Regions from separate parts of the Homo sapiens genome. Here region 1 is linked to region 2. The links come from fine-mapping of genetic effects on gene expression. A gene starts in region 2. The other region holds a variant in brackets. All regions are shown on one strand. Distances are between the middles of the regions. Region 1 overlaps VAC14 (VAC14 component of PIKFYVE complex). Region 2 holds the start of MTSS2 (MTSS I-BAR domain containing 2).

Region 1 (4,000 bases), 61 kb before region 2:
TTTTAGGAGAGAGGGGGTTTCACCATGTTGGCCAGGCTGGTCTTGAATTCCTGACGTCAGGTGATCTGCCTGCCTCGGTCTCCCAAAGTGCTGGGATTACAGGCGTGAGCCACCGCACCTGGCCTTGTGTCATGAGCTCTTGAAGATCTGGCCCTGCCTACCACTTTGGCCTGATTTCTGGCCATACCCTCACCTCTGGCCCCATTCCCCACTCTGGAGCTGGCCCCAAAGCCTAGTTTCCTGGAATGTGCCACGTGGTTCTGCGTCCATGAATGGCTTATGCTAGGTAAGAGAATACTTTGAATGCCATTCTCTCCCTTCTTACTCCCTTGGCCAACTCATGCTCAACTACTTCCAGAGCCTCCTGGCTCCCCCCCAGGCATCATCACTGGGTCCCTGGCACCCGCCCTGTATTATCAGTAAATGCTCACCACCTGACTCCTCCGGGAGTCCATGACCTCACTGAAGGCAGAGCCTGACCTGTCTGGCCTTGTGTCTCTTATACCCAGCACAGGACTAGCCCACAGCAGCTGCTCAGCAGCTGTCTGGAGAGGGAGCATTGTGTGGTTGAAGTTAACTGGTCCAGGGTCAGGATTGGATGTCAGGACTGTCTGACCACAGCACCCTGTGTAGTGTTATCAGCAGGCTCAGGTTTGGGGACCAGAGCTGGGTTTGAGGTGGACTCGCTGTTACCTTGAGCAGGTGACTGTCCAAGTCTCAGTTCCCTTGTGTGTATCCTGTGAGGTGAGACTGGTGACAAGTGAGGGCATTCATTGTGGCCGGGAGCGAGGACAGCCTGCTCCTCTGGCCCTGGAGCCACTCGAAGGGTGGAGACAACCTTGCACAGGCCAGGCCTCTCGGTGGCTTTTTCCAGGCCTCTGTTCTGACAGGGAAGTAGGTACCTGCCGGATACCCAGCATGAATCAGTTTGTCCCCATGGCACAGGGATCTTGCCGAGTGCTGGCCTGGCCCCAGCCGCCCCGCTGGATCACACTTTCTCCTCACTTTCCTCCCCTGCTGCACGTGGCCACCAGTGTTGGCCGCCCAGAGGTGTGTGCCTCTGTCCCCCTGTGCAGACAGACCTGGGTGGGATGGGCAGCATGGGGGCGAGGGGGCAAAGTGATGTAAAGAGACACAGATCTCCTCACCGTGCTCCTCCTCTCCCCTGGATCAGGCGAGAGACACCAGGGAGTGGGTGAGACCCCACCACCTCGGGCTGTGGGCAGAGCAAGAGCAAATGGGTTAGGAATTAGGTTGCTGATTTAGGGTTTTGCCCCCCCCGCCCTTTTTTTGTACAATTCACATACCATAAAATTCATAAAAACGACTCTATTGTATACTTTAAAAGTATACCATAGAGTAACTTTTAGTATTTTTCGCAAGATTATACAACCATCAGTACTAATTCCAGAACATTTTCATGACCCCAGAAAGAAGCCCTGTATGTACCCTGCACCCGTTAGGAGTCACTCCCCATGCCTCCCTCCCCACGCCCCTGGCGACCACAAATCCACCCTCTGTCTCTG[T/C]GGATTTGCCTGTTAATGGAGTCATCATACAGGATGTGGACTTTGTGGCTGGCTTCTCGGCAGGTGTTTTCAAGGTTCATCCACGTGTAGCAGGTACTTCATTTCTTTTTATTACCAAATAATATTCCCTGGTGTGGATGTGCCACGTTCCATTTCTCCTTGTCTCCACTGCAGGGCCTTTGGGTTATTTCCATTTTGTAGCTATTAGGAAAAATGCCGCTGTGAGCATTTATATATAAGTTTGATGTGCACAGACGTTTGCAGTTCTCTTGGTAACTGCCTAGGAGTGGGAGTATACCTATGGCAGCTCTCTGGGTAACTGTTTGAGGAGCTGTTGGCTTGACTCTTGCCTCACTGTTTAATTTTGGATGAGTCATTCCCCCATCCTCCCCCCACCTCCATTTCCTGGTCTCAAGTCCCCTCCCTGGCCGTGCTTGGACAGTCCAGCAAGCATTGGTGTGCATGGCCTTTGTACATCCTGCCGTGGCAGGTGTGCAGGGGCTGAATCGGGCAGGACCGCGGCGTCATTCATTGCTGTGCCACTTCCCCATCCTGCCCTCCGCCCTGTGTCTTTCTTCTGTGGCTGAAGCAAAGAATCCCTGGAGGCTCTGTCCTCAGTGGAAGCAGAGGCCTCGGCCCTCCCTACTTCTAGGCTGAGACCCACCCAGGGCTCCCCGGCTCCTGGCCTGGGTGGAGGGGCACCCCTTGCTCCTGCCATATGACTGGGCTGTGTGGCAGCCATGTGTCTCAGCCACGTGGATTCATCAGCTCTCCACTCTGTGTGCCAGGCCACGGGCAGGGGTGGCTGTGACTCACCTTTACAGCCCCAGAACCCAACGCAGCCGCTGGCACAGAGCAGGGTCCCAGGGGCCCACAGACATCCCAGTCTCCATGAGTGGGAGAGGGATGAAGGGAAGGACAGAATTGGACAGTAGGAGGGGAGTCTGTGAGAGTGAGTCTGTGTGAGCGAGTGCCAGCTCCTGCCTGGATGAGGCTGGGAGATTGCGTGCCAACACGTGACACTGTTTGAAGACTGAGGGGGCGGGAATGGGTGAGCAAGCAAAGGGGTTCCCGGCCAGGGCTGGCCTAGAGGAACCAGGAGGAGAAGTGACAATTGGGCAGTGTGGGGGAGGCACTGGCACTGTGTTTGCATTGACAGGAATGGCTTTTGAGGGGGTAGGCCTTATCTTTTTTGTTTGTTTTCTAGATAAAATTTGCCCTTTTGAAGCATAGAATTCACTGGCTTTTAATATACTCACAAGCTTTTTGCAACCATTACCCCCATCTAATTCCACAACATTTTAATCCCTCAGTAGGAGCCCTACAGTGCTAACCTTATCTTGTATTCCCATATTCCAGCCACCTGGCCGGTCCTGGCCCACATGGCCCTGCCCATCAGGCTCTGTCCCACTTTCCCTGGTCCAGGGCTGAAGCCCCGGTTGCCGTCGTTATTCTTGGCCTGGGCTCAGAGTAGCCCAGGAAGAGGCACAGGCAACCACCCAGTCAACTGATGTTTGTTGGGCATCTGCTGGGCGCAGGGACAGTCCTGGAGATACACCTTTTGGGGGGACAGGCATAGTCCCTAGCCCAGAGCAAGAGAGGAGTGAGGGGCAGAAAGAGCAGGCGACCACCTGCAGTGTGAGGAGTTCCCTGCAGGATAAACACAGCCAGCAGAAGGTGGCCAGGAAGCCTCAGCAGCCCCTGGGGCAGGTGCATGCACACAGGCACACGCGCGCACACGCGCACACACACACACACACACACACACACACACACACACTGAAGCCCCTCCCAACAGGGCAGGTCCGTGGCCCCTCTCCCTATTGCCCATTGCAGCAGAGTGGTAGGCTGGACTTTGCCGCCCTGCCAGCTCTTGGTGCCAGGCAAAGATGGGTGCTGTGCGAGGAGAGGCAGCTTCTAAGGATACGGGGGCTGTAGAGCAGCCCTGGGGACATTGTGACACAGTGCTGACCTGCGCTCACACTCAGCACTGGTCCCACGCCCCACTCTGCCTCTGTCTCGGAAGAACTCAGCAGGCAGGTGGTCAGGCTGGGGCCTCACCCCACCCACATCTGTGCAGGGACACTTTAGAGCCACCGAGGACCACCTGACATGTCTGGACATTAGGAAGTCCTTTACCTTGGAGACCAGAGTAGCACGCCAAATGTGGAGGACGCTTTAGGGTCTGCAGTGGCCTGGTGTCACCTCTGCAGAAGCAGCTGTTCTGTGGCCCAATGGTGGGTGGGGCCGTGGCTACCGCACACAATAGAACATGGTCTGGAGGGCACTTTGGGAGCCTTGCGCAGCCTGCGGGCCTTGAAGTGCACACTGTGCAGATAACGCCCTGCTTCCTGAGTCCTGGGACTCCTGGGGACCCTCAGAGCCCTGTTCAAGGGACCCGAGAGAGGGATCGTGGGGAAGCTGACTCTCCGAACCTCAGATTCCAGTTTCCTTCCTCCAGAGGCCCCATTCAC
Region 2 (4,473 bases):
AAACAGGAAATGCTTCCCAATGCGATGCCTGCTCTGGGCGCCATCGCCAGCCCACAGGCCGAGGGCAATAGCCAAGCAGCAGTGTTAGCTGTTCCCACCAACTGCGGAAGAGGGGGATGCTCAGGGGCTTCCCAGCTCTGGGGCCCGCCATGACGGAAGAGTTGCCAGGCCTGAGACAGACGCCCACAGGCCGAGCCCACCAGCCTGTGGCTCTGCCTCTGACCCCACTGCCCTCCAGCAGTAACCCCCCTGTGAGCTGATCCCTGACACTGAGCATTTCTGCTCCCTCTTCCCAGAGACAGTCTAAAGGCAGCCCCCAAGTCCCAGAAAGCTGACTCCCCTAGCATCGACTACGCAGAGCTGCTGCAGCACTTTGAGAAGGTCCAGAACAAGCACCTGGAAGTGCGGCACCAGCGGAGCGGGCGTGGGGACCACCTGGACCGGAGGGTTGTCCTCTGACAGGCCTGGCACGGAGGAGGGCCCACCGAGTGGTCCCATGAAACACTAAGGGTCGTCACGCCCTCCCGAGGAGCTCAAGGACCTGCCTGTCAGGACCAGGGCTGGGCCTGCCAACCCAGGGCAGTGTTGGGGCCGGAGGCTGCTGTGTCTGCCCAAGCTCCTCTCAGAGTCCAGTCCCCAGGCCTCCAGCGCTGTCAGCTGCACCCTGGCATTCTCACAGAGCTGGCTGCCCACCCAGTGGGGGGCTATAGCCTCAGAGACCACTCATCCTCTGGAATCAACCTCTTTCTAATACCCTCTTGGAAAAAGAGCTTGCCCCTCCTCCAGCACACTAGAGCTCTGGCCTTGTGTGTATATGTATACATACGTGAACACATGCCTGTGTGTGTGTGTGTGTGTGTGTACTTGTATGCACGTAGGCACCAGCACAAAGATCTGAATGATGCACCCCACCCCCACCCCAATAAAGAAATAACAGAAAACCCTCAACCCGAGCCGGCCTGCTCCTTCCCAGCTGACACGTGCAGCTGTCCGGGGGCCTCACCCTCTGTCCTGGAGATCGGGTTTCATGATGGCCCCAAGGAGTACTGGCTGCCCCAGGGCCTGGTCCCTGCACTCACCTGAGTGGAGCCATGGGCCTAGAGCCTAGGTCCCCACCTCTGGAACCTGCACCCTCCTGGAGAGCACCATGCACTGCCTGCCCTGGAATCCTGAACCCTGCCTTCCCCAATCTGCCTTTCTCATCCTGACTCCCTGGGGCAATGGGAGTTCCCCACTGGGGACATGGGAGCTGAGCCCCAGGAGTTCCTGGATGAAAGGGCAATGCACACTGCAGAACACTTTGCAGATCTCGGGGCAAGGGGAGGAAAAGCCCAGAGCAGTCCAGGGAGGGGCAGGTGCCCCAACCACTGCTGCAGCTGAAAGCCCTTCCTCACCGGGAGTGGTACCACCTGTCCCCAGGCTTTGGGAACCCTGGGCTTGGTCTCCTAATGAGCTTGTAATTGGCTCCCTCCGGCCCATGGAGTAGGCGAGAAGGAGCTTGTGCCTGCTCTTCCCCAGAGTGCGCTCCCCCATCGTGCTGCCCCCCAGGGTGGGTTTCCCTGCCTGGAGTCTCCAGGACAGGCTGCGATTGACATTGCTACCCCATGCACGTGTGTGCATCGCACCCACCGTGGACTCAGGCAGCAGAGACCAAGGACACTCCAGCTCTGCTCTGCAGGTCCGACATTAGCCCCCACCCGCGAAGAAGGAGGTTGTTCAAGGCCCAGGAGACTACCACTGCCCCCCAAATGCCCAGCCTTGGGCACCCCATCCGGGTGGCATCGGCACCACTTGGAGAAGGAGCCAAGGAACTTGGAAGGGTCCGAACTTGAGGAAGGTCTGTGCCTGCGATGAAACGTCCCAAGGCGGGCGGCTCCACGATACCCCGCGCCCTGCTGTGTGCGGTGTATGCCACCCATCCAGCCCATGCACCGACCCCATCCCGCCACTGTACCCACTGCCTGTCTTTAGAAGCGCGAGAAGCCCCCCGCCCCAGACCAAAGGCCAGAAGATATCGTGGAGCCCCTGCCCGGGGGCCGAGGCCCAACCGCCAGTCCCGCTCCTGCGTGGGCAGGGCGGGCCCCGCCCAGCGCCGCCCCCCGACCCTCGGTGGCGCCCGCGCCCGTCGGCCCCGCTCGCCGGACCAGTCTGGCAGCGCCCGGGCTCGGATTTCAAAGCCCTGGTTTCTGGCCGTGAATGGGCCTGCGCCCGCGCGGCCGTTCCCACAGCCCCCTCCCGCGCGGCCCGCCCTCCTTCCCTCCCTCCTCGCGGTCCCCCCTCCGCCGCGCCCACGTGACGCCCGATCCTCGGCGGCTCGGATTACCGCCGCCGTCAGTCCCCGCGCCGAGGCTGCGCCGCGAGCTGCCCGCGCCGCGCCCCCCGCGCCGCCCGCCAGCCCCGCTGCGACATGGCCCGCGCCGCCCGCCGGAGGCCCGCGACCCCGGAGCGCGGCGCGGCCGGCCGCTGAGCGCAGCCTGGAGGCGGGAGGCCCGGCCCGGCCTCGGAGCGAGCGCCCGCGCGGCCTGGCCCCCTCCCTTGCGCTGCTCCCCGCGCTCCGTGCGCCTAGCCGCCGCCGCGGCCCGGCCCAGCCAGAGCATGGAGACGGCGGAGAAGGAGTGCGGCGCCCTGGGCGGGCTCTTCCAGGCCATAGTCAACGACATGAAGGTAACCGGGGCGCGGCGGGGCCGGGCGCGCGGCGACGGGTGCGGGACCCCCCGGGGACGCGTGGCGGCGGGTGGCCGAGCCTCGTGTGGCCGCGCGCCGCGGTGTCTGTGTGTCCTTGTCTGAGCGCGTCCTGCCTGCGTCTGCTGGGCGCCCGTGTCTCCGGGTGCCCGTCTGGGGGTGTGGGTGCTCGTGTGTCGGGGTGTCCGTGCGGTGCCCGCGGTGGCCCCGTGGGGTCCTGACCCGAGCCTGTGCACACGCAGGCTCCCTGCGCCCCAGACCGCCAAACCATGAATGGGGTTTGGATCCAGGACCGACTCTAGGGCCCTTTAACGAGTCCGGGGTCTTACCGGCCTCCGCCCCCTTCCACCACCATGTTCCCCCACGGCCCCGGAGCCCAGACAATGCTGTCACCGCCAAAGCAGGAAAAAATAATAAAGCGGAGAACCGTTAACTCCTTCCCCGCCGACCTAGGCCTCTGCACCCGACCGTGAGACTGCGTCCCCCAGCCCCGCCCCACCCCCACAGCCCCAGGAAGCTCCAGGACTCCAAGGTCTCCAGGCTGAATGTCCCTGCATCCCAAGGATAGGCCTTGATCATCACCTTGGGAGGAGGCGGGATGAAGGTTGGGGTCGGTGGAGCAACCCCAAGGAAGCGCTTTTCCTACCCCATTACCACCCTGGGCTCTCAGCTCCGAGCCCTCCTTGTCTCCCAGGATTGCTTAAGGTCAGGCTGGATCCAACCACCCATTCATTCCTCACCCCACCAGGTGGGGAAACTGAGGCCTGGAAATGGCTCAAGGTCACTAAGGAGACTATTGGACCCTTCCCCTGACCTCAGCCCCCATTTTTCCTCCTGGGAAAATTAGTGGGTTCCTCTCCCCAAATGAGGCCAGGGTTTGGCAGGGCTGCCCTACGCTGACTAGGCAGAGAGGGCCCAGCTCCAGTGATAGGGTGGGGGCCAGGAACCAGTATTCCTGCCCTCCTGCCGTGCCCCCTTTCCTTAGCCTAGGATGAAGGGGCAGGATTTGGGGGCTGGGAGAAGGGGAAAGAACGAGGCACCCCACAGGATCTCCCAAGGGCCCCCACCCCCACAGCCCAGCGCAGATTCTCCAAGTGCACAACACAGAATCCCACCAGGCCAGGGATGGGGGTGACACCACCCAGTACAGTGCTGCTAGGACAGGCCCCGTGAGGGGTGGGGGTTGCTGGCAGGTTGGAGTTCGAGGCTCCCGGTGCTGCCAGGACAACAGCCCCAGGGACAGCTGCCAGATCTCTGCCCCCGGAAGAGGCCTGAAGCCAGCCTGGCCTGGGACTACCCAGTTAGCGGCTTGTAGATGCCCCCCACCCCCTGCCCCTCATGGTGCACTCCCCCTGGGACCCCCATCTCTTGCAACTGTACATCTGGGCCCCTCCGCTGGCCCCCAGCAGTCCCCACCTGTCCTGTGGACATCACAGCCCTGGCCCCAGGATCCTGTTAAGGGACTGGGCAACACAGACCACCCTCCCCTGGCCGATCCCAGAGCTGGCTCCGGATGGGCCTTCCCGCACCCCACCACCCACCACCACTGGCAGCCTCATAGCAACCACTGCAGAGAGCAGCAGATTTTGCTCGTGGAAGTGGACTAGGACAGTCTCTCTCCCTCTCCAGCCAATTTGCAAGGAACTTTGGGATGAGACAGAAGGAAGTGGGCCCAGATCATAGCAAGAGGTTCAAGCCAGACATCGGGCATGATTTGCTGACATGTGGAGGCAAAACAGGAGAGGCTTCACCTGGGATGATGCCAAGGACAGATTCGCCCCTACCTATGAC

What was found.
Region 1: its variant is fine-mapped to the expression of MTSS2 in whole blood (TOPMed, PIP above 0.99). The same link has a PIP of 0.9 or more in T cells.

Annotation. Positions count from the first base shown.
Region 1 is chr16:70,744,789-70,748,788 of GRCh38, reverse strand. The region is part of intron 12 of VAC14 (VAC14 component of PIKFYVE complex); the gene reads left to right. Among named protein-coding and RNA genes, the nearest start is that of VAC14-AS1, 8.3 kb to the left of the region's middle. RefSeq lists enhancers at 842-1,476, 1,721-2,221, 2,222-2,722. The variant T/C (reference allele first, on the strand shown) is at 1,527.
Region 2 is chr16:70,683,914-70,688,386 of GRCh38, reverse strand. It overlaps MTSS2 (MTSS I-BAR domain containing 2), which reads left to right and starts at 2,334. Exons shown (of 15, transcript NM_138383.3): 1 at 2,334-2,664. The coding sequence starts at 2,596. It overlaps VAC14 (VAC14 component of PIKFYVE complex), which reads left to right. Exons shown (of 19, transcript NM_018052.5): 19 at 297-948. The coding sequence ends at 459. RefSeq lists an enhancer at 300-806.